4 linked regions of the Homo sapiens genome follow. The protein of the gene in region 2 interacts with the protein of the main gene of each other region in a pairwise test. Each region holds a gene or a part of one and is shown on either strand. Other genes may lie near its edges. The genes, in order: PARP11, KIF1B, MLC1 and METTL27.

Evidence for each region.
Region 1: the proteins of KIF1B (region 2) and PARP11 interact in binary tests that used the Homo sapiens proteins (3 or more experiments, as listed by UniProt).
Region 3: the proteins of KIF1B (region 2) and MLC1 interact in binary tests that used the Homo sapiens proteins (3 or more experiments, as listed by UniProt).
Region 4: the proteins of KIF1B (region 2) and METTL27 interact in binary tests that used the Homo sapiens proteins (3 or more experiments, as listed by UniProt).

What each region holds. Positions count from the first base shown.
Region 1 is NC_000012.12:3,828,188-3,835,460, reverse strand, and holds part of PARP11 (protein mono-ADP-ribosyltransferase PARP11), read left to right. Parts: intron 1-5,442; coding exon 5,443-5,571; intron 5,572-6,430; coding exon 6,431-6,551; intron 6,552-7,273. UniProt on the Homo sapiens protein: Mono-ADP-ribosyltransferase that mediates mono-ADP-ribosylation of target proteins. Plays a role in nuclear envelope stability and nuclear remodeling during spermiogenesis. Inhibits the type I interferon activated signaling pathway.
Region 2 is NC_000001.11:10,290,412-10,297,684, reverse strand, and holds part of KIF1B (kinesin-like protein KIF1B), read right to left. Parts: intron 6,604-7,273; coding exon 6,524-6,603; intron 5,639-6,523; coding exon 5,563-5,638; intron 2,600-5,562; coding exon 2,520-2,599; intron 2,026-2,519; coding exon 1,919-2,025; intron 1,104-1,918; coding exon 1,020-1,103; intron 789-1,019; coding exon 608-788; intron 512-607; coding exon 439-511; intron 1-438. UniProt on the Homo sapiens protein: Has a plus-end-directed microtubule motor activity and functions as a motor for transport of vesicles and organelles along microtubules.
Region 3 is NC_000022.11:50,068,427-50,075,699, reverse strand, and holds part of MLC1 (membrane protein MLC1), read left to right. Parts: intron 1-1,367; coding exon 1,368-1,484; intron 1,485-5,116; coding exon 5,117-5,173; intron 5,174-7,144; coding exon 7,145-7,267; intron 7,268-7,273. UniProt on the Homo sapiens protein: Transmembrane protein mainly expressed in brain astrocytes that may play a role in transport across the blood-brain and brain-cerebrospinal fluid barriers. Regulates the response of astrocytes to hypo-osmosis by promoting calcium influx.
Region 4 is NC_000007.14:73,839,291-73,846,585, reverse strand, and holds the start of METTL27 (methyltransferase-like protein 27), read left to right. Parts: upstream 1-4,069; 5' UTR 4,070-4,096; exon of another isoform or gene 4,097-4,263; intron 4,264-4,441; 5' UTR 4,442-4,445; coding exon 4,446-4,568; intron 4,569-5,387; coding exon 5,388-5,516; intron 5,517-6,036; coding exon 6,037-6,172; intron 6,173-6,465; coding exon 6,466-6,555; intron 6,556-7,295.

The sequences.
Region 1 (7,273 bases), on a different chromosome or scaffold from region 2:
GAACTGGATATTTTAAGTAACATAGCAACTCTGGATACTGATCCCTATTGTGGTTGTTTGTTTGGTTATTGGTTTATGTGTATATAACAGTGATATAGCTGAACAAATTCTGTAAAGTCCATTTTCCTCACAGTGTGTAGCTTCTGATATCCCAGCTCAGACTTTTCCCCTCTTAACCTGACTACTTATGTGGCATTTCTGGATTGGCATAGACTATGTACTGGTCACAGGTTGTGCTTACATTCCCTGAGGTAGGTAGATTTTTACCCTTAAGTGTTAAATGTGTGTGTGGCTTGGTGGCTGCTATTATAGTTCAGGGAGTTTACATTTTTTTTTGTCCTGCATTTAGCCAGGTGCTAGAAGCTTGGAAGTTAGTTCCTGAGAGGGCCCAACCTTGAGCATGTACACAGTGTTCCAGACTGTCAGGGATGACAGTGCTGTTTCATTTAACCCTGGCTTCATAGGAATTACCCCTGGGTCAGAGTAGCTTCTGTTACGTCGTGTTTGGCCAGAGGTGGTGATTCAGACCCTTGTGCCAATGAAGTTTCTCCGCTCTGTCAGTGGGTACGTGTATAGCTTAGAGAACGTTTTCAAGACTGCCCCACGTTCTGCCCTGATCATTCCTGGGTGTACACAGCCTAGTGTTTTTATACTGCCTTTCTGACTCCTCTCTGATCTAAGAGGGCTCTTCTTGGCTGTCTCTGGTTCTCTGCATTAAACTTCTGCTTGCTCTGCCTTTCTGCTTATATTGGAGCTCCTAGCCTTTCTTAATTGTTTTTCATTAATATTTCCACTGTTTTCTTTCTTTCTTTTTTTTTTTTTTTTTGAGATGGAGTGTCGCTCTTGTCGCCCAGGCTGGAGTGCAATGGTGTGATCTTGGCTCACTGAAACCTTTGCCTCCTGGGTTCAATCAGTTCTCTTCTCTCGGCCTCCTGAGTAGCTGGAACTACAGGTGCACGCCACCACACCTGGCTAATGTTTTGTATTTTTTGTAGAGTTGGGGTTTCACCATGTTGGCCAGGCTGGTCTCAAACTCCTGGCCTCAGGTGATCTGCCCATCTTGGCCTCCCAAAGTGCTGGGATCACAGGCATGAACCACCACACCCGGCCCACTGTTTTTGATAATGCCCTTAGGCATGGGGTTCTGCTCTCTGTTCCAAATAAAGTCAGTCCTCTCAGATGGAAATGTAGAGCTCTTTGTCCTTATGGCTCGTCTTTACCCCTGAGCAAAGTCTCCATGCCACTGCTCCTGGGGCTGAAGGTGAGAGTCTTTTTTCCCCAGAGTAACACTCCATTCTTAGAGTGGGCAGTGGAGTGCTGGTAGCAGCCCTTGGTCTTCTTAGCTGACTGCTCCTGGCACAAAACCTCTACTCTGGGAGGAAGTTGGGGCGGTGGCAGTCAGGGCCCAGTATTTGCAGCCTGCTGTACCTGGAATAGAAATTCTACCTTTTGAATGGGGGCTGTGTAGGGAAAGAGAGACGGGTCCTCTGTGTCACCTCTCCAGAACAGAGCTTCTACACCTCTGGGCTGAAGGAGAGGAGAAACACCAGCAGCCTGCCCTTCCCGGGGTAAAACTAGCCACAGACTGGAAGCCTGAGGGAGAGGGAGCCCTCTGCCTGTCTTTTGGGTACATATACCGCAGGTAGAGGCTTCATAATACAGACCTGGTAGGATGTGGGGAATGGTGCAGTTTGTAACTCAAACGCCACAGACTCTGACTTGTTCTGAGATTGAGTACATTTTCTTGAATGAATGTTTCTCCACTTTTTGTATGCCCTTAGTACAGTTTCCAGAGACTTTAAATGTTTGTTTTTTAAAAAAATTTTCAGCAGTTTTTAATTTTTAATTAATTAATTTTTGTGAGGCAGGGTTCTGCCGTGTCAAGCTGGAGTGCAGTGGCGTGATGTTAGCTCACTGCAGCCTCAAACTCCTAGGCTCAAGTAATCCTTCCATCTCAGCCTCTCAAGGGGCTAGGACTATAAGCATGCATCAGCATGCCTGAGTAATTTTTATTTTATTTTTTTGTAGAGATGGAGTCTCACTGTGTTGCCAGGCTTGCCTCAAACTCCTGGCCTCATGCAAACCTCCCTTCTCAGCCTCACCAAAGCCCTGGGATAACAGGTGTGAGCTACCACGCCCGGCCTACTAGTTTTTAAAATGTAGTTTTGCCAGTTCCACTGAGCTCCTTATTCTGTCATTCTGGAAGTTCTCGTTCATTTTTAAGCTTTTAAGATCAGGTTTGAGATCTTCTTTATATGTAGAGGCAAGGAAGTTGTTATTACCAAATATGATTTCCTGAAGATACTATACTCATGCTAACAAAATAAATTATACTTTGTTGTAGTAAACTAAAATTTATATCAGAAAACTTGAAACCAGTCTGGAAGGCAGCCTTATTTTCCTTATATAGACCAGGATTTTGACTTTAAACTCATTTTCCACACAGCTTTTCAATTTGATGATTCAGACTGACTGTTCCCAGGCTCTGTAAATAAAGATTCTCTTTGTAACAGATAACATTACGGACAGGCTCTACCAGCATACCCATTGCCCTTGAAACTTTACAAAATGCTTTGCCGCTTTGTACTAGCTTTTTCTTCTTCCCAGCCTGCTTCTAATTACAAACAGGAAAATCAGACAGGATATGGCATTGTGACTGAACAAGTTCATTCATCTAACATTATTAAATACCTGCTTCATAACCGATAACTGGTGAATATTCTTTTTATTACCTATAAATGTGTCCTAGCCTAGAGCCATTCTTACTATGGTTGCGATATTTTAAAGTTATTAATTTAAATTTGACTTAACTCTTTGAGCATAATTATGCAAAATAGTCATTTCTTTGGAGAGAAAACTTACTGTAGAAAATGGAAATGTTTAATCTTATAAAATGCATCTTTTTAAAGAAACCCAGAGCATCTGTGAAGCAAAGCAATTAAACTAAATGTTAGCAACATAGGAGAGGAGAAATAACTGTCCATGTGTGAAAAGGAGACAGTGGGGCTTGGTAACTTAGGGGAAGAAGTGATGTTCAGGAGGCCTTAGGTGTTGCTTTAATATTCTCTGTACTGCTAGCTGTGAATCTAGACAAAAAATTGTATTATTCTCTGCTTCGGTTTTTTTCCTGACTTTAATTGGAAAATAATCACTTATCTCTCCTGCACATTGGATTGTGGACGAAAAAAATAGTGTAATTTGATAAGGAATTGTATAAGATTTGAAGTGCTTTAGGAATGTTCAATACAATGGTACCTGTCCCACCCAAAGCGATTTATAACAGAAAGCTCTGAAAGGATGTTGCTGAAACACTTTCATTTATAACCTGGCCTAAAGCGAAGTCTTAGGTAAGGTGTTTTATAGCGGAGCACACATGTTATATGTATGCTGTATAAAGGGAACTTTCCTATTTTCTATTCTCTTTTCTAATAGAGAAAAGATAGAACTCGTAAGGCAAATATTTTTCTTAACTATTAGCTCCAATCTCATTCTTCCAAATTTTTCTGGTTATTTTCAGAAGAAAAACTAAATTTAGGTCACACTTTCTTTCCTTCTCTCTTTCTCACAGTTAAATGGCCCAATGAAATGAACATTAATAAAAAAAAGCAGTAGGAATTGTGAATAGTTTACTGGACAGTTTGGTCTTAAACTTTAAATCATTGTCTTTATTATGTGGTTAAAATATATAAGGTAAATAGTGGGTCCTAAACCAGAAGGCTTTGATCCTAGGGTGTTCTATTTTTCATTTCTTAGAAGCCAACCAAATTTAAAACATGAAGAAAAAAATGGGAAATAATCATAAAGCATTGCTTGAGTTTCCAAACATATATAAAAAATAACAAACCCCCTTCATTGAGGTCAGGCACTGTTATAAATGAACTTGTCTCGTTCATTTATAACATTGTCTCATTCATTTATAACAACATCCCAATGAGGAAGGAGTCTATCATTTTTCATTTTGTGAAGAGCCAACTGTGGCCTAGACAAGGCAATTGAAACTTATTCCAGGTTGCTACAGCTTCTAAAAATAGGATGGACATTTTAAATGATGAAATTAAAAGGCAAATATTTTCTAAATTACCCAGTAGTACATATTCTTTGTTAAAAAAATCAATGATACAGGAAATCAAATTTTTAACAAATCATCAATAACTCTATATGTTTTTATGTGTGTATAATTATACACACACAAACAGAGTGAGAGAGAGAGAGAGATCTGAAAGATATGCAGTGAAATTATAGCATTGGCTAACCCTGGAGAAGAAAAGTGAGAAGGTACCAGGAATGGAAGTGATGGTTAAAAAAGTCTTTAGCTTTATTTTGAAAGTTCTGATTTTTTGCAAGAAGAATATTTTTTATGTAGTAGTTGTATAAACTTAATAATTTAAAAACCCTCAAAGAATGAGGACAGGAAGCCAAATTCCAGATTGAGTTTAATTTTCTTTGACCAGCCTCTTTGTCTCCTTTCTAGAGACTTCTTCATTACAATACCCAACCAAGAATGTTTAAAACTTTTCAAAGATAATGCATATGTGAGTTAATTGGTATAGCTAAAATTATGAAATCATTGATAATGAAGTATAAGACAGTATATGACGGCGGCTAAGTGCGTAGACCCTGAAGCCAGGATGTTGGGTTTGAATCTTGACTTCCTTGTTGTATGACCTCTCTATGCCTTAGTTTCCTCATTTATAAATTTGGGGTACTGATAGTACCTGTCTCTAGGTTGTTGTGAGACCTAAATGAATTTTCATCTGTGTAGTCCTTAGAACAGTAGCTGGCACGTAGTAAGTAATATAAAGGTTACTATTATTGTTATTGTATCCTGACACTTAGAAAAACTGGTGGTAGATTGTTATATATACATCCAGACTTTTTTCTATATATGTGTGTAAACATTTACATACACTTACACAGATACAGGCACGTTCACAGGAGTAAGTATATTTTTATTAAAATTGGATTATACTATTTCTATTTTTTTGTAATCTTTTACACTCAACACCATATAAATATCTTTCTATGCCATTAAATGAAATGACTGTTTAAAATAAAAATTAGATGCATTTGATCTTAACCAGCGTGATAGCATGGGTCCTTTTGACCAAATACATGAGCATAAGATAAAATTGAAAATGCTTGGGGCTATGCTGAAACCTGAAGTGCTTATTGATGTTGATATAGCTTACTTAAATGGTTGAATAGACACTGGCATATTCTACCTAAGATTATTATTACTTGCCTAAATTGTTAAGCAATGATGTCCAACATTTTTAATGTTTATCTTCAGAGCCAATATGAAAGATAGAAAGCTGTTTTTAAAGTGTCATGGGAGGAAAGACACTTGAATACCACTCTTTGTAAAGAAGTAAAATGATCTGTAAAAAGTATACTTGTTATTAATAGAATTATTTCTTCCTCCACCTCCTTCTGGCTTTTCAGGAGATGTTTCACAAAGCAGAAGAATTATTTTCTAAAACAACAAACAATGAAGTGGATGACATGGACACGTCAGATACCCAGTGGGGCTGGTTTTACTTGGCAGAATGTGGGAAGTGGCACATGTTTCAGGTACCTCCTTTCCTTTAATTTAGCAGAAGTGTTTTCGATTCACTTAGCATCACCTTGCTGATGTATGTAAAATGAGTATAAATATAGAACTTGAAGTCAAAGCTTAAGGAAATAAAATTGTTTAACTAAAAGAAAAGTTAGAAATTCTTCCAGTGCTTTTCCTTTTCTTTTCCCCAAGTTTTCACACTCATTTATTTAGAAGAAACAATAGAGGGTGAATGTGACTGAGAGTTGCATGGTGTCAGTACATCTGAGCAACTCCAAGTTTGGTTTGGTGGACAAAGAGAAAGGGAAGAACAAATCCGTATTAAACACTTCTGTATGCCAGGTATTATGTTAGGTGTTGTACATTGATTTTCTCCCTTATCCTCACAGTAACTTGGAAGCAGATGTTAACATTCTGTCTTACAGTCAAGGAAAGTGAAACTCACAAAAGTTGACATAATTTGTCAAGGGTCACACAGCTAGTTAAACTGAGATTTGAATCCGCACTCAAAACCTGTAGTCTTTTTTTTACTCTACTAAACTATATAAAGAAGATTTAACTTGAGCCACTTAGAAAGTATAATTATTGGAATAATCTGTAAAAATTGTAATTATCTGGAAAAATAACTATATTTCTATATATATCTGTTATTGAAGGGGACTATAACCAGTTGTCTCTTCACTGGAGATCCTTAAACCATTTTCAATATGCTGGCTTAGTTGTGATTCTCCCTGTGTGTTGGGAACTAGAACAGGTGATTAGTAAGTTTCCCTCGCCCCTCCATTCCCTGTCTCTATGACCACAGTACCACCTCTGTGGCCAAGTCATTAATGTGAACAGCTGGTAAATGAAACTTTCTGGTTTGTCTTAAAGCCGGATACCAACAGTCAGTGTTCAGTTAGCAGTGAAGATATCGAAAAAAGCTTCAAAACAAACCCTTGTGGCTCCATTTCTTTTACTACTTCCAAATTCAGCTACAAGATAGACTTTGCAGGTATGTTTTTTTCCCTAATAGTTGTGTGTTTTTAGTATATTGATATGATAAAATCTACAGCTCTGAAGGTCAGGATTAGTTGATATATTTGCAAACAGTGAAGTATATCTTTTTTGTTATATACAAAAATACCTCTATAAAAATTCAAGTTTTAAAATCTTGAGCAACATTGCCTTTTATAAAAGGTGTGTTTATATGTTTGTATATATTAATGTATGTGAAGATTGTCTTATATATTAAGTGCATTTAATACTTGTCTTCTAAGGAACACAAAACACCGTATCAGTTGTTTTATTCATCCCATCAGTCTTTTGAAATAGATAAGAACATTTAAGAACATTTTTACTTTTTTTTTTTTTTTTTTTGAGACGTCTCACTGTGTTGCCCAGGCTGGTGTGCAGTGGCATGATCTCGGCTCACTGCAGCCTCCGCCTCCCGGGTTCAAGCAATTCTCTGCCTCAGCCTCCCGAGTAGCTGGGATTACAGGCACCCGCCCCCACACCCGGCTAATTTTTTTGTATTTTTAGTAGAGACAGCGTTTCATCATGTTGACAAGGCTGGTCTTGAACTCCTGACCTCCTGATCCACCCGCCTCCACCTCCCAAAGTGCTGGGATTACAGGCGTGAGCCACCTTGCCTGGCCAGAACTTTTTTACTTTAAGGATCAAACAGATGTTAAGTGAGAAAGTCATAGGTAGCTGGCAATAGTTTCAAGAACAACT
Region 2 (7,273 bases):
AACAATCCCAAAGTCAGCCCAAGAGCAGAGAATTAGTACTATCAAGTGATCAGAAACAAAACCAAGGCAAACTCTCACCAAATTCAATATTCAGAGTAATTATCATTTAAAGAACCACCACTGAAGCAAATTCCAAAACCACTATCAAGAGGCAAAGGCTACCAGAAAAGCTCTATTTCCTTAAAAAGTATTTGGTTGTAACAGAAGTTAAGATTTGGCTTTAAGACATAAAAAGCCCAAAAGAGTACCTCTGTGGACTATTTTTTCAGGCTAAGGCTACCGGGAGATTTAAGTTCATTCTCCATTAAGGAAATTAAAGAATAGTGCTTGGTATCATTGAGACAGAAGCAATTTGGGTGAGTACTGCTCTGTGGAACAGGGAAAGTATGGGAACAAGCTGCCCTTTTCCCAACAGTTTAGCAGATTCAGGACTCCTACCAGTCTCTGCTGCTCCAAAAGAAGATCTGCTTCTTCCTTCTCCTTTTTGTATAAGATCTCCATTTCCTGTAGCCTAGAAGTAAAAAAAAAAAAAAAAATTCAAGAATGCTATTAGTATTACATGTTTAAAAGAAGAAACAGTCATATGGGCTGCGTAACTGTGCATTACCTTTTCTCCATCTCTTGTTTCATATCAATTCCTTGTTTTTCCAGAAGCTCCCTCTGGGCAAATGTCCAGTCCACAGGCTCAGAGGGGGTCTCAGCAGAAGGAGTCTTCTCTCGCTCAGCTCGTGCTTGTTCCGGGTGGTTAAAGCGGAAAACATGGTTTTTACCCATGATGATACGGTTTCCTAGCACAAAACAGAAAAATAGGGTTAAGAAATAATTTTTTTAATATATAGTATCTATTTAACAACCTCACCCCTCCCTAATGTGAAAAGACAGCTTTCAGAGCTGTTGTTTTTACAAGAACAAAAATCCTAATGCTGACTATTACTTCAGCCTTTAAACAGCCAAAAATTAGAGTTGTCACAGAAGCCATGTGCACATTGCTGAAGATGGCAAACCTCTCCCAGTCTCACCTGAGCGCAGCTGAACAGGCTGGGACACCCTCTTGCCATTTACGTAGGTTTCTGAGCGCTCACAGGGCTCTAAGGTCACGATAACTAAGAGGAACAAACACAAACTAATGTTATCATTACAAACTATTGGAATCAAATAATGGAAAGCAGTTGCTTATCAGGATTTGCAGTAAGTAGAATAAATCCCTGCAATCAATCAAGTGGCTGAAGTTGTCTATACAGTAGTTCATTTTGGGGTACCAGAACTAGCCCCAATAGAAGAGGCTATCTGTGGCCATGGCTAACACAAGAACATTTAACTCTATTTGATAAACCTAAGAAGATGATAGGAAATATTAGTTTCAGGGATCTCTGACGGTTCAGTCAATAAAACTCAGAACCATCAGAAATTGTAAGGATGAGATATAGGTAATAACCAGAAACTAAAGACTGAGAAGCTAATATTTTGATAAGGGAATGAGTGACTTATATAACAGAAAAAAACCATTAAATTGTTGTTTTGTTAATAACCCAGGCAAAAATCAAGACTGACTTTTTCTTCCCTTTTAGATAAAAATAAATTCTGCTGGGTTGACTTAATGTCCTTCAAATCTCCTATTACCCAGGATATCTGCTATTTTCTTACTTTTCTATTAAATAATTAACATTCCAGACCAAGCCTAATTGCCTATGTCCTTCTCAGTTCTTGGCAGTAAAAAAGGGCTTCTTTTGTCCAAGCTATTTTCATGTAAAGCAGCCTTGTCCATCTCTGCATTCATAAGCAGCCCAGGTCTCTCCATTTTTCAGAATTAGATTGTATAAGAAAGTACTACTGATAGACAGAGAATACAAAGTCTTAAGGATTTCTCATAATATAAAATGAAAATGTTGTTGCTGAAGCTCCAGCCAGGAATGCTCACCTTCCCCGCTGTTGCTTCTCTCACTCCGGAAGATACAATGCTCTTCTTTAATGTGAGCCCCGCTCAGCACTATGTCCTGGCGCCGCTCAGCATCTGCTTGGCCAACCCTGAACACAAGAGAAAGTGTTTCCCAGGGAAATTCAGACACAGAAAGCACTACAAACAATGAACCTCTTTATTCCAAAGAATATCCTTTGGTACGTACAAAAAAGGTATTGCCTTGTTGCATCAGAAGCTTTCAACTATGAATTCTATCCTCACATATGATCAACCTCTCTACATCAGAATAAGAAACAAGGAGCACTGATATACCAATGTAACTCATACAGTATTATAAAGACATGAGTCAAATAAAATCCCTAAGGAATGTATATTTGTTAAAGGAAAAAAAAATTATTTAGGGTCTTCAGAGAAAAACTACATAGTAACTGGCTCCAGTGGCAAAAACACATTATTTGGAAAGAGAGCATAGTTTGTAACTATTTCAGACAAAAAATACAGCAAATCATTACGTTAATTTTTTCAACCCCTTCCCTTTAGTTATTCAATTATCTAAGAGGGGGAAAACACACGAAGTGACCAAAACAGGAAATAAATATACCTTGTAATTCCATCTTTGATGTAATAAAGTAGGCACTCAGACATTAGTGGGTCTTCATTGAGGTTAACAAGATGTGGGGTCTGAAAAAGATTACAGATGATCAATTTGGAGCAGGGCACCATGAGAGAGCTGTGGTAACAACAGGGGCCTACAAGAGGCCAGGCTTCTCCAACTCTCCACAGAGCCTAGAGAGGGATTTCTTTTTATCCCTAGTTGCGGTTCCATAATAAAGAGAAAACACTCTCTTCAGGCCTCACCAAACGGAACCAAGTGCATTCTATTTTATTTTAATTAATTAATTAATTTGAGACAGAGTCTCGCTCTGTCTAGAGTACAGCGGCATGATTTTGACTCACTGCAACCTCTGCCTTCCAGGTTCAAGTGATTCTCCTGCCTCAGCCTCTCAAGTAGCTGGGATTACAGGTGTTCGCCACCACGCCTGGCTAATTTTTCTATTTTTAGTGGAGGCAGGGTTTCACCATGTTGGCCAGGCTGGTCTCGAACTACTGACCTCAACTGACCCACCCTCCTTGGCCTCCCAAAGTGTTGGGACTATAGGAGTGAGCCACTGTGCCTGGCATTCCATTTTAAAACATGAGTTCTGGGATAAAAAAACAAGACCTAATTTTTGATAAGGTCAAAGCACAAGGAAAAAATGACAGGCCAATTCTCTGAACGGAATAATTATAATTTTTGTAAATGCCTGGGTAAAAATCTCAAGAAATATTTACTTTTATTAAAATGTCCCCATACCCCCCCACCACTTCCCACTATAATTTTTATCAGTTCTTCTGATCCCAGTTATTAATTTGTCTTTACCTTAAAAGATTTTAATTTATTAGTCTTTACCTTAAAGAAAAAAGTAAAATTACTGATATTCGATAAGATAAACATCTTCTAACAATCCTCTTCATCTAACTCTAATATTTCTAAAATCTTTTTAAAAAACCAACCTTCTTTAGTGAAAATAACCCACTGGAATCCAAAAATAAGTCACATGGTCTTGAGGCCAAAATCTACTCAAGAGAGTGCCAGCAAATGTGGAAGAATGAAAGAAGAGTCAGATGAGGGGGTAGGAAAAGGAACTATAAAAGATGGTTAAAGAGAAATCTGAAAAACCTCCACATCTTCTCAACTAGCATCCCCCTTTGTAGTTGAAGAACTTGACTGGTTTGAGAAAGTCAAAGCCCTTTGTGAGTAGCATTCTTTAAAGCACATCATAATTTGAAAAATGGAATCTCAGAAACAGGTCCTAAGACTGAGTTTGGATGTGGTCACTGGTATATCCCTTCCTTTCATGAAGAAGTCTAGAAAGCTAAAGCAAGATGGGTAAAATTAAAGTAAGAAAAAGCTTTGGAAGCAGAGATCTCACTTTGGAATTCCATGCAGTGTACATCTCAACATTTGTTCAAGTTATTTATGATTTATGTTAAATGCATAATATTTTCACTAGTTGTTATAATAAAAATTTTCCAGCCAGGCACAGTGGCTCATGCCTGTAATCCCAGCACTTCGAGAGGCTGAAGTGGGTGGATCACAAAGTCAAGAGATCAAGACCACCCTTGGCCAACATGGTGAAACCGTCTCTACTAAAAATACAAAACTTAGCTGGGCGTGGTGGCATGTGCCTGCAGTCCAGCTACTTGGGAGGCTGAGGCAGGAGAATCACTTGAACCCGGGAGGCGGAGGTTGCAGTGAGCCAAGATCACACCACTGCAGTCCAGCCTGGCGACAGAGTGAGACTCTGTCTCAAAAAAAAAAAAAAAAAAAAATTTCCTCACAGTCTTTAATACTGTAAGATGTTATAAAATACCTTTATTAGACATATGCATAGGCACAATTAAATTCCACCAAAACTGTAACTGCTAAAATCTATATAATCCTAAGTAACATATCTGAATGAATACATGTCTTACTGAAGGAAAAACTATTAAAACTGTGAAAACCACTAACCTTTCATAATATAAACATATAAAATACTTAACTGTTCTATTCTACAATATGCATCTAAAATGTCTTTACATCAGTCTTTTCTGTTGAAAATAACACATTGGAATTTGGGAAGAAAAAAAAAAAAAAGTTATGTGGCCAGGATAGAAAAACCTGACCAGAAGAATTGTAGCGAAAACCACAGGAATATTTCATATCACATAAAAGTACCAATTCAAAACTCACCACCCCTTGTATCCTAACTTAGAGAGATCATCAACAGAACCTATGAATAAAGATGTTTAAGTCTCCAATAGCCAATGTGAGGTCACTTGAAATAAAGGACAATTTACTAGTGGCATAAAATACATGCTTTGTACATCGATATATGTTCTCCTATTTTCTGATACATAAGCACACAAAATAACCATTTGATAGTCATTTTCTAGTATCCAACAAGACGTTGCAACTTAGTTTAAGAAAAAAACAAAAAAACCCTTACTACTCTAATTAGCTAAAAGCTACGTAACTACTTCATAACTATGATTATGTAAAAAGGAAGGTAACTATTGGAGACACTTTTTAAAAAATGAAGAAGGAAGCAGAGGAGTCTAGAAGGATAGGGACAGGAATTGCTTTACTTAGTACAATGGCTGTCTATAATACAAATTGCAGAAGCAAATGGAAGCAGTATTATTCTCCACAAACCTGTACAGCTGAAATTGGTTCCAAAAAGTTATAAAGCAGGGTAGACGACTTCTGTGGGAAAATCTACATGAAAGAGTAGCCAAAACTGAAAGTACGCTAGGTTAGGCTGGGAATTTAAGAGAAAGCAACAAATAAAGATGACTAAACAAACTGAATCATGGCCAAAGGTTACATATTGCCTTAGGTTTTTTCTTTTGTAAACAGTAAACAAGATAGGCATTTTAGAAATAGGCTGCCTTTGTACTATAAGACCATGCTCTAAGATGAAATCAGAAATATCTGAAATTAAGGCAAGTATCAAGATAATAAGGGGGAGAGTAGGTCCTGAAAGACATGAAGTGCCCCAGTAACAAAGACAAACAAAAAGTGTCTCTGTCTGATTAGGTTTCACAGCATTGTTTCCTACCTTTTTAGGTGAGAAAACCCCTAGGGTTCCTCCATCTTCCCGAATGGCAACTCCCATCTCAGCCAACAAAGCCTCTCTAGGAAAAAAACAGGTATATCAGAACACTAATACCAAAATGTCAATTAAATCAGTCTAATATGAATTGGAAAATAAAGCCTGCAAAGCAAAAACAACTGGCCATGTTTATAGCCAATAATGCAAACATAAAATAATGTGCTTATCTCATCATTAATGAGAAGTTATTTCTAAAAGCAACATCACATTCAAAATCAATGAAATCTTGCTTTGTTAAAGTTATATTCACTGAGATAAGAACTTTGTCTCAACTGACTTTGGGATAGTCAATAATTCATAAATGATATGCATATTAATATAAAAAAGAAAAGAAGAGGCTATTCCTTTTTTTTTTTTTTGAGACAGAGTCTTGCTGTCACCCAGGCTGCAGTGCAGTGGCACCATCTCGGCTCACTGCAAACTCTGCCTCCCAGGTTCACGCCATTCTCCTGCCTCAGCCTCCCGAGTAGCTGGGACTACAGGTGCCCACCACCATGCCCGGCTAATTTGTTTTGTATTTTTAGTAGAGATGGGGTTTCACCATGCTAGCCAGGATGGTCTCGATCTCCCGACCTCGTGATCTGCCCACCTCAGCCTCCCAAAGTGCTGGCATTACAGGCGTGAGCCACCGCGCCTGGCCAATATGTTCCATTTTTATGAATCCCTAGCAACATGTAATATGGTAACTAATAAACCTGTGACTCCCTAGATAATATTTAAATATGTAGATGTCATTTCAAAGCATAAATTCAACTGGCCATAAATCCCTGTCCATTTTTTTGGTTTCGTTTTGTGTTTTAGAAGGGCAGACTCTTTGATTTTAATTTATATTTTATCTTTTCTTACGATAAAGTAATCCACATCCCCTAGAAAACTTAGAAACATTTCCAGATTTTAACCTCCTGACCTCTCCATTCTGATGGCCTCTGTTTTACGAAGCTTCTCTTCCCAAGTTTCATTCAACTCAGCAATGATCTTCTCTGATTCCTAAGGAAGGAAGCGCACAGTTAAAGAGGCAAAGAGTCTTATAATTTAACATACCATGCTAGAAAAGCAAGAAGCAAATCATGCCCTTTGAGGATACAGGCCAGAATTAAATGTAAAGAGATTTTTCTTTTATTAATACATAAGATAAGAATCATAAAGATTAGACCTAAAACTAAATCAACCCCAAACAAATAAATCCTCCAAGTCTTTTTTTTTTTTGAGACGGAGTCTTCCTTTGTCACCAGGCTGCAGTGGCGCGATCTCAGATCACTGCAACCTCACCTCTGGGGATCAAGTGATTCTCCTGCCTCAGCCTCCCGAGCAGCTGGGACTACAGGCACGTGCCACCACGCCCAGTTAATTTTTGTATTTTTAGTAGAGACGGGGTTTCACCATGTTGGCCAGGATGGTCTCAAGCTCTTGACCTCGTGATCCACGTGGGCATGGTGGCAGGCGCCTGTAATCCCAGCTACTCAGGAGGCTGAGGAAGGAGAATGGCATGAACCCGGGAGGCAGAGCTTGCAGCGAGCCGAGATCGCGCCACTGCACTGCAGCCTGAGCAACAGAGCAAAACTCCATCTCAAAAAAAGAAAAAAAAGAATAAAGTTCCCAAACGTATTTACTGCTTTTGTTTCACTACAATTTCGCCATAACACACTAACCTCCTGAA
Region 3 (7,273 bases), on a different chromosome or scaffold from region 2:
GTCCTGCTGTTGCCCAGGCTAGAGTGCAGTGGTGTGATCTTGGTTCACTGCAACCTCTGCCTCCTGAGTTGAAGCGATTCTCCCGCCTCAGCCTCCCGAGTAGCTGGGATTACAGGTGCCCGCCACCACGCCCAGCTAATTTTTGTTATTTTTAGTAGAGACGGGGTTTACCATGTTGGCCAGGCTGTACTCAAACTCCTGACCTCACGATCCGTCTGCCTCGGCCTCCCAAAGTGCTAGGATTACAGGCATGAGCCGCCGTGCCTGGCTGGGAATTCAGCTTTATTTGTGCATCTGGAGTTTTGTGCCTTCTGGACGCAAGGCCTGGCTGCCCAGGTCCCTTCCGGCCCCCAAGCCCTTGCTGGCCCACTCCTTATGCCTGGCTTTCCTGCTGGCCACAGCTCTGTGTTTGCGACTCACAGAGATCCTTCACGGGAGCAGGTTTTCGGGCGTGTGTTTCTTCCCCAGCCCTCCCTGAGTCTGGCGGTGCTGGTTGCGGCCCCTCCCTGAGTCTGGCGGTGCTGGTTGCGGCCCCTCCCTGAGTCTGGCGGTGCTGGTTGCGGCCCCTCCCTGAGTCTGGCGGTGCTGGTTGCGGCCCTGATGGTGCCGGGCAGATGAGTCCACAACCAGGGCTTAGGCCAGCAGGGTTCTTGGCTTTGTCCAGGAAAGAATTCAAGGGCGAGCTGGAGGTGACAGACAGCAGCTTTGTTTGCAGTGGCAGTATAGCAGGGCTCTCCAACCGGCAGGTGCCTCGAGCAGCAGCTCAGAGACAGCTCTGCCTCCTATTTATACCCACTTTTAAGTATATGCTAATTAAGGGGCAGATTATGCAGAAATTTCTAGAAAAGGGGTGCTAACGTCCAGGTGGTTGGATCATTGCCACGGAAAGGGGTGGTGACGTCCAGTGTTGCCGTGGCAATGGCAAACCCACATGGCACGGGTGGGTGTGTCCTATGGGAAGCTACTTCTGCCCCAGGCCTGTTTTCCCGAGTCCCTTCGATGGGGTCCAGGGTCTGAGCACCGCCGCCTGCCACACTGTGAGACAGGGAAGGGAGTCTGAGGGTCTTGGTTTTCTGCCCTCACCACTGTCAGGTCAATACCCTCAGTTTCTGTGGACAAAAGCAGCAGTGGGGGAAACACCTCTTTGGCTATTTTACTCCAGGAGGGACGTGAAAAGCCGCAGCTGAGGGCAGAGGGGGTCTGGGCCAGGTGAGGCTGGGGGTCCATCCAGGTGGGCTCCTCCACGGTTAGATCTGGGGCCAGCCCACTGGACCCTGCTCCTGGGGGTCCATGTCTGCACAGTGCATTCTGGGAATCTGGGGGTGTCTCCACTTCCTTATGAGCCGATGCTGTCCTGTCCCCTCCAGGTCGTCGAGGTAATCGCAGGCATCTCTGCCGTCCTCGGGGGGATCATTGCCCTGAACGTGGATGACTCAGTTTCAGGCCCACACCTCTCAGTGACGTTCTTTTGGATCCTAGTGGCCGTGAGTAACCCCTCTGGCCCGCCCGCCGCCGCTCTGGGCCACACTGCTCAGATCCTGCGTGGCTGGGCCCCGAGCTCAGTCTTGGTGCATTCAGACAGAGAGTCACCACAGAGGGTCCTCGCTGGCCCCCAACTTCAGAAGAACTGGGGAGTTAAGGATTAAATGAGTCAAAGTATTAACTGCTTTTATATTAGTTTGTGTGATTATTTTATATTATTTTTCCTGAAAAAAATACCAATTATTTTTATTATTCTAATCTTTTTAACATATGAATGTCAGGCTGTAGATGTTTATTATTCTATATAATTTTCTAATATATAATGCATTTATATTACACTATGTGTTTCATACAATGCAGCATATTTCTGTTATTACTTTACATTAAATGTTACTGCAGCAGATGTGTCACACAGCACCTGACACATGCCACATGCTCAATACATGGGCATTGTTTTATTTATTTTATTTATTTATTTTTTTGAGATGGAGTCTCACTCTGCCACCCAGGCTGGAGTGCAGTGGCTCAATATCACCTCACTACAACCTCTGCCCCTCCCCGGGTTCAAGTAATTTGCCCACCTCAGCCTCCCAAGTAGCTGGGATTACAGGCGTGGACCACCATGCCCAGCTAATTTTTTTGTATTTTTAGTAGAGACCGGGTTTTGCCATGTTGGCCAGGCTGGTCTTGAACTCCTGACCTCAAGTGATCTGCCTGCCTCGGCCCCCAAAAGTGCTGGGATTACAGGTGTGTTCCCTCAGAACAGTGAGTCTAGAGCAACCCCTCCACACCCCAGATCCCCTCACAGCCTGTAGCCCACCCAGAGCCACCACCCACCTGCCTCCGGACGCAGACCCCACGAGGTTCTCAGCACCTTGCCGCGTAGTGGCCTGCACACCGGTGTTGACGGCCAGCCCCTGGTTTGTCTCATGCTGTGTGGACTTTTAGATTTTGCCCCTGCTCTCTTATGTACATGAGCAGGAATGGTGAGCACCCAGCATCAGCTACAGGCTCCTCCTGGGCAGCAGTGGGGCTCTTCCTGAAGCTGCCGAGGCCCATGCCTGCCTGGGAGCAGTATGGCCAGGTGGACTGCCGAGAAGGGGCCCACGCCTGCCCGGGAATGGTATGGCCGGGTGGACTGCGGAGAAGGGGCCCACGCCTGCCCGGGAACGGTGTGGCCGGGTGGACTGCCGAGAAGGGGCCCACGCCTGCCAGGTGGACACATCCCATTGGCAGCAGCTGTGTTTCAGCTCCCTGTGGGGGCGAGTAGGCACAGAGCAATGCCCCCAGGGCACCAGTGCCCGACCTAGTGGGCTGCTGAGGCGCTCAGAGAGGGAAAGAGACCCAGGCAGGACCGAGCTGGGATAGAGCCACACCCCCGGAAGGGGTAGGACCAGGCCCAGCTACTGAGACAGAGAACTCACATGGGTGCCCACCCAAGCGGGTCTGTGACAGAGAGAATGACGCCTGCAGGTGTGTACAACTGACCCTGGGGTCTGAAACGCAGGGATTACATCCCGAAGCTGAGGGAGGACAGAGACCACATACCTCCAAAAAGTTGAGAATGAAAGGCACTTGCCCTACCCCCTTCCCTGTCCCTGCAGTCAGCCCTCATCACAGAGGCCCCTCCCATCCCGCAGACCCCTCCTGCCTCGGGGGTGGCTCTGCTCTCTCCATCTTCCCGGAGAGCACCCCCTGCCCATCAGGTGCTGCCCCCTGGGCGCCCCTAAATCCACCCACACTCCCAACCCTCTCTTCAGGGCAGGAGACCCCAGGAGGAGAGGAGAGCGCTGAGGCATGCGTGGTGAGGGACCCAGCTCCACCTGCCTGAGTCTGGCCTGGGTGCGGCAGAGGGGCCCAGGCCCTGCACCATGGGCTGGAGGCAGGTGCTCGGGGCTGGAGTTGGGGGCTGGGCTGCAGGCCTGGACCCTTCCAGGGCAGGGCCCTTGATTGAGCTGCCCCAGCCCCTATGGCTGAGCTTCCTGGCCCTCTAGGGCAGGGGCCGGAGTGGCCATGCTGGGTGAACGGGGAAACTCCCGCCCTCCCATGGCTCACTGGGGCCCTGAATAGGCCACCCTGAAGCCACCATCCCTTCCTGTGCCCTCACTGCTGCTTACAGCTAGAAGGCCCTTTCAGAAGCACCAAGCCCAGGAGAGACCCCTGTATTGACACCTCAGCCTCCCTGGCCAGGGCCACACCCACCTCAGCAGCTGGCTTGGGGCCTTTGCACTGGCAGCCCCTCAGCTCCCCAGTCTTCTCCCTGCTGCCCAGGCTCCCCTGCTCGGAGCCCATCTCTGTCCTGCCCACCCTCTCACCACAGCCCCTGGCTGATGCAGCCCCCTCCCCAGCAGGCCGGGCTGGGGTGCTGGCACCTGGACACCTTCGGGGAGATGAAGAGGATGAAGAGCATGCATCCTCCCTCTGCCTACATTGTGCGGAACTAAGGCAGGCTCCTCACAATAAGTGGGAAAAGGGCATTTCTTGGTTATAAAAAGGAAGAGGTGCCCATCCAACAGAGGAACCTACAGATCCCCCTAACCCAGTGAGTCAAGTCAGCGTCATCAGGAAGGGGCAGTCCACACCCTGGGGCACTGCAGAGTCTCCTCCGAGGCTCCCCAAGGCTCATCATGAGGAAATCCTGTCCCACACGGAGGCCCGACTGCAGCTGATGGGCTGCACCCCCCAGAAGCGACCAGGTAACGGAGGTGACAGAGGCTGAGGGACTCCCCGATTAACAGGGACCCACAAGGAGACTACGAGCTCAATGGCAGACCGAATCCGGATCAGGAGCAAACAAACAAACAGCTCTAGAAATAACATGACCAGGGCCAGGTGCGGTGGCTCATGCCTGTAATCCCAGCACTTTGGGAGGCCGAGGCGGGCGGATCACCTGAGGTCAGGAGTTCGAGACCAGCCTGGCCAACAAGGCGAAACCCCGTCTCTACTAAAAATACAAACATTAGCCTGGTGTAGTGGTGGGTGCCTATAATCCCAGCTACTCAGGAGGCTTGAACCTGGGAGGTGGAGGTTGCAGTGAGTCAAGATCGCGCCACCGTACTCCAGCCTGGGTGACAGAGCAAGACTCCATCTTAAAAAAAAAAAGGAGAAGAAGAAAGAAAAATTATTAAAAAATTAAAAAGAAAGAACATGATGAGGACAACTGGAAGAATCTGGGCATGGACCACATCGGCCCCACGTGGAGTCTCTCGAGCGTGGTCCTGCTTTGGGTGTGTGCAAGAGTGTGCCCTGGGCTCAGCCAGCACTCTCAGGTGTTCAGGCATCAGGCTATCTGGGAGAGCTGGAGAGAGCACAGATATGAATGTCAAGGACTCTGGTGATTTTGGGGCCTCAGATGCCCCCTCCACTGCTCTTGCAGCTTTTCTACAGGCTTAAAATTTTAAACCAATGGTTGAGGAACAGAGAGCACACAAAACCTCTGAGAGGCTACCCCTGCTTCCCTGCGGACCCGTCCCTGCCCCAGCTGCGCCTTTGGGCACTGCACCATCCCCCCTGCCCCCCACAGCAAGCCAGCCAGGCAGCCTGCATGGAGGGGTCACTGGTGGGAGGGCACATGTTTGGAATTCGACTTCTTCGACTATTTCCTCTAAAATCTTTCCTTTTTCTTTTCTCTTAGTGCTTTCCAAGTGCCATTGCCAGTCATGTGGCAGCAGAGTGTCCCAGCAAGTGTCTGGTGGGTGAACCCCTCAGCCCTGGGTGCCAGGGACCCACCGAGCGGGGCCAGGGCCTGGCCTAGCCCTCCCTTGGTGCCATGTGACCAGGCTCCAGCCCAAGAGAGCGCAGTGACTGGGCTGCAGGGCCTGCACAATGAGGAAGGTGGGGTTGTGGGAGGTGGAGGCTGGCCCGCTCAGCAGGGACTGTTCTCAGGGACAGGCAGACCTGAACAAGGTGGTGTAGACACTGGAAGCGCTCTCTGTGCCTAACCCTTGGAAGGAGACCAGTGTCTGAGCATCATCTGCACCTCCTAAGGCTGGTCGATTGTTTTTTTTTCTTTTTTGAGATGCAGTCTCGCTCTTGTCCCCCAGGCTGGAGTGCAATGGCACGATCTTGGCTCACTGCAACCTCCGCCTCCCGGGTTCAAGTGATTCTCTTGCCTCAGCCTCCTGAGTAGCTGGGATTATAGGCGCCTGCCACCATGCCCGGCTAATTTTTGTATTTTTAGTAGAGACGGGGTTTCACCATGTTGGCCAGGCTGGTCTCGAACTCCTGACCTCAGGTGATCCACTCACCTCAACCTCCCAAAGTGCTGGGATTACCGGTGTGAGCCACCACGCCCGGCCGAAACTGCCACAAACTGACCGCAAACAATTGAACTGGTCGATCGTTAATGACTGCTGCCAAAATGTGGACCCTGAGTGCTTTGCAAGGTGACTGCCCATGCTTGGCATGAGTGAAGGCTGTCTCTGAGACTTGATGGGTCAAACAGGAAGATTTGGGGTGGGTTAAAAGGACAGACTTCAGAGCAGTGAAGGAGGTGACCCATGCGGAAGGGCTATTTTTTCAAGAGTGGAGAATTGCAGGTAAATGTTTTTTGTTTCTTGGTTTTGTTTGTTTGAGACAGAGTCTTGCTCTGTCACCCAGGCTGGAGTGCAGTGGTACGATCTCAGCTCATTGTAACCTCTGCCTCCCGGGTTCAAGCGATTCTCCTGCCTCAGCCTCCCAAGTAGCTGGGACTACAGGCATGCGCCACCACACCCGCTTAGTTTTTGTATCTTTAGTAGAGATGGGGGTTTCACCATGTTGGCCAGGCTGGTCTCGAACTCGTGACCTCAGGTGATCCGCCCTCCTCGGCCTCCCAAAGTGCTTGGATTACAGATGTGAGCCACCTTGCCTAGATGGTAAGTATTTCAAAACTTGTGGCACTGTGCTGTGAATGAAAAGGCAGGCTGCTCATGCCTGTAATCTCAGCACTTTGGGAGGCCAAGGTGGGTGGATCACAAGGTCAGGAGTTGAAGACCAGCCTGACAATATGGTGAAACCCTGTCTCTACTAAAAATACAAAACAATTAGCCAGGTGTGGTGGCGCATGTCTGTAATCCCAGCTACTCAAGAGGCCGAGGCGGGAGAATTGCTTGAACCCAGGAGGCAGAGGTTGCAGTGATCAGAGATTGTGCCACCGCACTCCTGCCTGGGCTACACAGCTAGGCTGCCTCTCAAAAAAGAAAGAAAGGCAGGCCGGGCGCGGTGGCTCATGCCTGTAATCACAGCACTTTGGGAGGCCGAGGTGGGTGGATCACCTGAGGTCAGGAGTTCAAGACCAGCCTGACCAACGTGGCAAAACACGGTCTCTACTAAAAATACAAAAATTAGCTGGGTGTGGTGGCGGGCGCCTGTAATCCCAGCTACTCGGGAGGCTGAGGCAGGAGAATCACTTGAACCCGGGAGGCGGAGGTTACAGTGAGCCAAGATCATGCCACTGCATTCCAGCCTGGCGACACAGCGAGACTTGTCTCAAAAAAAAAAAAAAAAAAAAAGAAAAAGAAAAAAGAAAAGGCAGAGGTTTCAGCAGGAGTCATGCAGGGAACCAGCTTGGGACTATGCCCATGAGTGCCCGGCCATGCCCGCCCCCCCAGCCCTGGCCACGCCCGCTGTCCTGGGCTCCCAGGCTCCGGCCGTGGTCCTGCAACCCGCGCTTTTTTTCCAGGTGGAGGTCCTGATTGCCATAAGCAGCCTCACGTCTCCGCTGCTGTTCACAGCCTCTGGATATCTGTCATTCAGCATCATGAGAATCGTGGAGATGTTTAAGGATTACCCGCCAGCCATAAAAGTGAGT
Region 4 (7,295 bases), on a different chromosome or scaffold from region 2:
TTGCCCAGGCTGGTCTCAAACTCCTGGGCTCAAGCGATCCTCCAGCCTCGGCCTCCCAAAGTGCTGGGATTACAGGTGTGAGCCACTGCACCCAGCCAATGGATCATTTTAATACATCTCCCACCCCAAACTGTTTTCTCTTCCCCAAGCCCCCAAGCTCCCTCTGTCACTTTGGCAGCAACTAGACTTGGTGGGAGGGGAAGCTTGATATCCACGGCCCGTAGTATGTAGGGTCCAGCCCTATGGGGCTTAGCGGGTGTTCTCCCCGTGTGCGGAGATGAGAGATAGTAATAAATAAAGACACAAGACAAAGAGATAAAGAGAAAACAGTTGGGCCCGGGGGACCACTACCATCAAGATGCAGAGACCGGTAGTGGCCCTGAACCGGCTGGAAGTGCTGATATTTATTGCATAGGAGACAAGGGGGCAGGGTAAGGAGGGTGAATCTTCTAAGTGATTGACAAGGTGAAGCAAGTCACATGATCGTAGGACAGGGGGCCCTTCCCTCTTAGGTAGCCGAAACAGAGAGAGAGAAGGCAGCATACGTCAGCGTTTTCTTCTATGCATTCATAAGAAAGACCAAATACTTTAAGACTTTCAGTATTTCTTCTATCGCTGTCTACTACGAACTTCAAAGAGGAACCAGGAGTAGAGGAGGAACATGAAAGTGAACAGGGAGCATGACTATTGAAGCACAGCCCCACAGGGAGGGGTTTAGGCCTCCGGATGACTGCGGGCAGGCCTGGGTAATATCCAGCCTTCCACAAGAAGCTGCTGGAGCAGAGTGTTCCCTGACTCCTCCAAGGAAAGGAGACTCCCTTTCGTGGTCTGCTAAGTAACGGGTGCCTTCCCAGACACTGGCGTTACCGCTTGACCAAGGAGCCCTCAAGTAGCCCTTATGTGGGCGTGACAGAAGGCTACCTCTTGCCTTCTAGGTCACTTCTCACAATGTCTCTTGAGCACCTGACCCTATACCTGCCAGTTATTCCTAGGTTATATTAGTAATTAAAAGCTAATGATTAATAATGTTTATAATAATGATTGATAATTGTCCATGATCATCTCTACATCTAATTTGTATTATGACTATTCTTATTCCATTTTCTTTATTATACTGAAACAGTTTGTGCCTTCAGTCTCTTGCCTCGGCACCTAGGTAATCCTCCGCCCACAGGAGTGAGAGGGTCATTTTCAGCAAAAGACACAGAAAAGGCTTTGAGGCTCCAAAAACTTAAGACTTGAGGGGAGTAAAGGATTAGAGGCAAAAAAAATAAAACTTGATGAGTCAGAGAAAGGCCTTCCAGCCCCAAGGCTAGAACAGGCTCCTGGGCCAAGGAGGAGAAAAACCGGAGGAGGCTTGTGCTTTGAGGTATTTCAAGATGTTTCAGGCACATCTCATACTTTTCCTGCCCCAAGCGTTTCAGTCATTTCATCAGCTGTTTCTCTAAGGAGCTCTGGTTCCTTTTAGTTGATAACGCTTTTTTTTTTTTTTAAAGAGATGGGGTCTCGCTGTGTTGCCCAGGTTGGAGTGCAGTGGTGCAATTTCTGCTCACCGCAACCTCCGCCTCCCAGTTTCAAGCGATTCTCCTGCCTCAGCCTCCTGAGTAGCTGGATTACAGGTGCGTGTGCTACCACTCCCAGGTAATTTTTGTATTTTTAGTAGAGACGGGGTTTTACCATGTTGGCCAGGCTGGTCTTGAACTCCTGACCTCAAGTGATCCACCCGCCTCGGCCTCCCAAAGTGCTAGAATTACACACATGAGCCACTGCACCTGGCAAGAATGCATTTTTAGAACCAGATCTGGATGCTCGTTGTGGTGATTACTACTGAAGCGTTAATTGTGTTTAGGTCATTTTGGCAGACAAAGCTAGGAAACTCACAAATACACACACATACATGTATGTCTATTTACATATCTTTCCATTTATTTATGTTAAAACCCATGAGTTTACTCTAATATCTCCCACTCTCCTCCAACGCTACAGGGTTCCTTCTACTCATCACCCTGTAAAACCAGAAAATCTAAGACAGGTCTCAGTTAATTTGGAGAGTTTATTTTGCCAAGATTGAGGACGCACGCCTGTGACACAGCCTCAGGAGGTCCTGACGTCATGTGCCCAAGGTGGTCGGGGCACAGCTTGGTTTTATACATTTTAGGGAGACACGAGACATCAATCAATATATGTAAGAAGTACATTGGTTTTGTCTAGAAAGGTGGCGACAACTCGAAGCAGGGAGGGGGCTCCGGGTCACAGGAAGGTGAAAGACAAATGGTCCTATTCTTTGAGTTTCTGATAAGCCTTTCCCCTGTAATCTCAGCTACTCAGCAGGCTGAGGCAGGAAGTGGAAGTTGCATGAGCTGAGATTGAGCCACTGCACTCCAGTCTGGGTGACAGAGCGAGACCCCATCTCATAAAAAAAGAATGCCTTCACCATCTGGGAATGCAGTCCAGTAGGTCTCAGTCTTATTTTACTCAGCCGCTATTCAAGATGGAGTTGCTCTGGTTCAAACATCTCTGACACTTCGACACTTCTACCCCCTAAACATCTCTGAAGATCACCCACTCCTCTCCGCAGTCATGACCTCTACCCAAGGTCATGCAACCATCACCTCCTGCCTGGACACCTGCAACAGCCTGCCAAATTCTGCCTGCCCAAACCCTTGATTCCAACACAGGTCCTCTAGACCAGCGCTTCTGAACCTTCAGCTGCCTAGAAATCGCCTGCAGAGTTTGTAGAAACACAGAAACTCTGGGCCCCAGTCCCAGAAATCTAATTCTCATTCAGAAGGTCCCAGGTCAACTGAGAATTTTTACTTTTTTTTTTTATTTGAGATGGAGTCTTGCTCTGTCACCCAGGCTGAAGTGCAGTGGCGCAGTCTCTGCTCACTGCAATCTGTGCCTCCCAAGTTCAAGCTATTCTCCCACCTCAGCCTCCTGAGTAGCTGGAATTACAGATGCCCGCCACCACGCCCGGCTAATTTTTGTATTTTTAGTAGAGATGGGGTTTTGTCCTGTTAGCCAGGCTGGTCTCAAACTCCTGTCCTCAAGTGACCCGCCCACCTCAGCCTCCCAAAGTGCTGGGATTACAGGTGTGAGCCACTGCGCCCCGGCCTAATTTTTGCATTTCTCACAAGCTTCCCTAGGGCATCTCCTAGAGGAAACCAAGATGTTACGGAGGCTGACGCTGCGTATCTTCAGGTCACACTTCCAGCCGCAAGACTCTCTCTGCTGTCCAATACAGTAGCCACTAGCCACATGTGGCTATTTAACTTATTAAAATAAAATTTGCCAGTACGGTTTTTTAAAATAAAATTATTAAAATAAAATTTGCCAGGAGGCAGAGGTGGGAGAATCGCTTGAGACTAGGAGTTTAAGACCAGCCTGGACAACATTTTTTGTCTCTACAAAAACTACGAAGATAAAAATAAATAGATAAAAATTTAAAAAGCCGGGCAAGGTGGCATGCACCTGTAGTCCCAGCTACTCAGCTACTCAGAAGGCTGAGGCAGGAGGCTGGCTTGAGCTTGAGTTCAAGGCTGCAGTGAGCTATGGTCAAGCCACTGCACTCCAGCCTGGGCGACAGAGTGAGACCCTGTCTCATAAAACAAAACAAAAATAAAACAAAATAAGTAAATATAAATACAAAGTAAAAATGAAAGCTAATCCTAGGTCCCTCTCCTGCCCATAAGAATTCAGAGACTCCCCAGTGCCTACAAACCTCATGCTTTCAGGAAGCATAAAGGACTTCAGGAGGCAGGAGGGCAGTTGGAGGGGGATGGTGGAGGTGCTGCTACCTGACGGTGGAGGGGGAGGCCGGGGCCAGACCACCGAGAAGCCCCTAAACCCGCACAGCAGGAAAACATCTCCGCAGTCCCTGCTCTACCAAGGCTGGAGGAGGGCCACAAGCCTTGAGCTCATTGGCTGGCGGGGGGGGGGGGGGCGGGCAGACTGCCAGCGCCTTCCTTTGACTGGCTATTTTCTCTCAGCGGAAAACCAATCATTGCGGGCAGGCGGTGAGGGTGTGGCCAGGGTCGCAACACAGGCCCCGCCCCGAGTCCTGTTGCCCACACGCCCGAGGCGCGCTGGATTGGCGGTGAGTTCTGACTCCGGCCTCCTTCGAGACCGTTTCGCTCCGGATGTCGCCCACCTCCGACCCTCTCTCAGTCGGAGGGCGGAAAAGAGGAAGATAGGTCCTTCCTCCAGCCGCGGGGCACCCCCTTCTCCCACCTTGCCCTTCCCCCAGCCCTGCAGCCCCAGAGTGTAAATATCCAAGCCCGCCCTCTCTGCGCTCAGTGTCCCCATCTGGGATAGGGGCCGGGATAGGGGTCGCGCTGGCAGGAGGCCTGGCAGCCTCCTCTGAAGGGGGAGGAGGGAAGGGGGAAAGGAGGGGATGGGCGATTGAGGTGGACCTCGAGACAGGGCAACGGTGTCCCCACAGGAGCATGGCCCAGGAGGAGGGTGGGAGCCTGCCCGAGGTGCGGGCGCGGGTCAGGGCCGCGCATGGCATCCCCGACCTGGCCCAAAAGCTCCATTTCTATGACCGCTGGGCTCCGGACTACGACCAGGTAAACTCATTTGGGGCCTTGCCTCCACTAGACCAGCCTCCATTTTTCTACCTGTAAAGTGGGGAATCAGCCTTGCACCCGGGGGCGGCTGTGAGGACGAAGTGAGGCCTGGCTAAGAACCCTACAGTCCTGCCCCTTCCAGAACCCGCCCCACAGCTCTGGATTGGCAGCCCCATCAGGGGCCATGACCTCCTGAGGGGGGCTGCCTGGAGGAGGTGCTATTGAGAAGTCACTGTGGGGCCGGGCGCGGTGGCTCACAAGCCGTAATCCTAAGCCCTTTGGGAGGCCGAGGCGGGCGGATCACCTGAGGTCAGGAGTTCGAGACCAGCCTGGCCAGCATGGTGCAACCCTGACTCTACTAAAAATACAAAAATTAGCCAGGCCCACGTGGTGGCAGGCGCCTGGTAATCCCAGCTACCCTGGAGGCTGATGCAGGAGAATTGCCTGAATCCGGGACACAGAGGTTGCAGTGAGCCAAGATCTCTTCACTGCACTCCAGCCCGAGTGACAGAGGGAGACTCTGTCTCAAAAAAAAAAAAAAAAAAAGTCATGTGGACTCAGCAGAGAGAGCCGCTTGGCCAGGAGAGAAGGTCCCTGGAGGGCTGAGTCTACTGTACAGTGGGCTGGGGGCTAACTCTCCAGTCCTGGCCCTTTAGCAATGGGAAGCACCTCATGCCTGGGCGTCCCCTCACGCTAGCCCCAGCCAGGCTTGATCCCCAACACACACAGCTTAGCCTGGCAGACTCTGAGACCACCCCATAAGGGAGATCCCCCAAACACTGGGGCACCGGTGTTGTAGGCCCGGCACTCTTTCCCCAGGATGTGGCCACCCTGCTGTACCGTGCGCCCCGCCTCGCAGTGGACTGCCTCACACAAGCCCTTCCAGGCCCGCCCCACAGTGCCCTGATCCTGGACGTGGCCTGTGGCACAGGCCTAGTGGCTGCCGAGGTGAGGCTCTTCCAGATCCCCTGCCTACTCCTTAGCCCCGCACTTCCTCAAATCTCCTACTGCCCCTGGCCCCAGAACCCTGCCCCACACCTCAGACTCACTGTTTCAAATGCATGAGACAGGACCAGGCATACTGTGGCTCACACTATGGGAGGCCGAGGCAGGAGGACAGCTTGGGGCCAGGAGTTTGAGGTCAGCCTGGGCAACATAGCAAGACCCCTGTCTCTACAAACAGATTTAAAAATTAGCCAGGCAGGGTGGTGCACGCCTGTAGTCCCAGCTACATGGGAGGCTGAGGTGGGAGGATCACTTGAGCCCGGAAGTTCAAGGCTGCAGTGAGCTATGATCACGCCACTGCACTCCAGTTTGGGCGACAGAGAGAGACCTTGTCTCAAAAATTTAAAAAAAGCAAATGCATGGGCCACATTCAGTGCAGAGTCCACTGCCCTGCCAAGGTGCAGGGACCCAGCCGGGAAGTGGCAGGTGTGAACCATGACTGAGTCTCCCACCCCTACCCCAGCTGCGGGCTCCAGGCTTCCTCCAGCTGCATGGGGTGGATGGGAGCCCAGGGATGCTGGAACAGGCCCAGGCCCCCGGCCTCTATCAGCGCCTCAGCCTCTGCACCCTGGGCCAGGAGCCTCTGCCCAGCCCGGAAGGTACTTTCTCTCCCACCTCCACACCCCGAGGCCCACCCTCATGAAGCCCTTTCCCTTGCTGATCCTCCATCCCTCTCCCACACTAAGCTCCCAGTCCCTCACTCAACCCTGCACCCCACGATCTGACTGCAGCCCAGAACTGGGCCATACTTACCTTATCCTCTAGGGGACCTGGGTCCTGCAGATGCGGGTAGTAGCCTCGTCCCACCCCTAGGGTGGTCTGAGGCCACACCATAGACAAAGTACCTTCCAAGCATCACACCATGTCCCCACCCCCCCCCACACACACACAGGGACCTTCGACGCGGTGCTGATAGTCGGTGCCCTCAGTGACGGCCAGGTGCCCTGCAATGCGATACCTGAGCTACATGTCACCAAGCCAGGTGAGGAGCAGCCCAGCCAACCACCCCCAACCCCCGTCACCATATACCTTCCCCTGTGCATAGTGCAGACACAGGCCCCAGAGCCCCTCAGGCTAAGCGAGGGGCAGCGTCCTGCCCAGCGTCACACACAGCCTAGCCTAACATCCCAGCCACCAACAGCAGACCCAGGCAAACAGGCCGGGCAGACAGGTGGCCAGCTCGGCTCTTATCCATGGACAACCAGGAGCAACTCCACCCTCCTCTGCAGCCTCCTTTTCCCAGTCTGGGAGTCAGGTGGTATAAATGCTACAATCCAGTCCCCGTAGGACTGCAGTGAGAATCAGGTGAAATCCTGTCTCTAAGGTTTTTGCTTTGGTCCTGACCCACAGTGAGGGCTCAGTTCTGTTCCTTCCTCTCACTGCTTCCTCACTCATTCATAGACTGCCTTTGGAGCATCTCTTTCTCTTTCCTGGTCTCAGTCTTCTCATCTGGGAAATGGGGCTGCTCAGGGGAGATGAGAGCTGTGAGCACCGTTTGTAAACTTTGCACATTGCGCTGCCCGGGCAGGTGTGTTTCCCGTCTCCTGCTGTGTTCTTGCTCAGCGCTTTGTTCTGCTCTGGGCAGAGGGCTCAGACCCTGCCCTCTGGGCCTTGATCTCCAACCCACTGGGGCCCAGGAAGGGGCCAGAGAGCACAGGGCCTGGTCAGAGGTGGCCCCACGAGAGCCGTGAGTGCTCACTGCTCCCAGAATTTATTTATTTA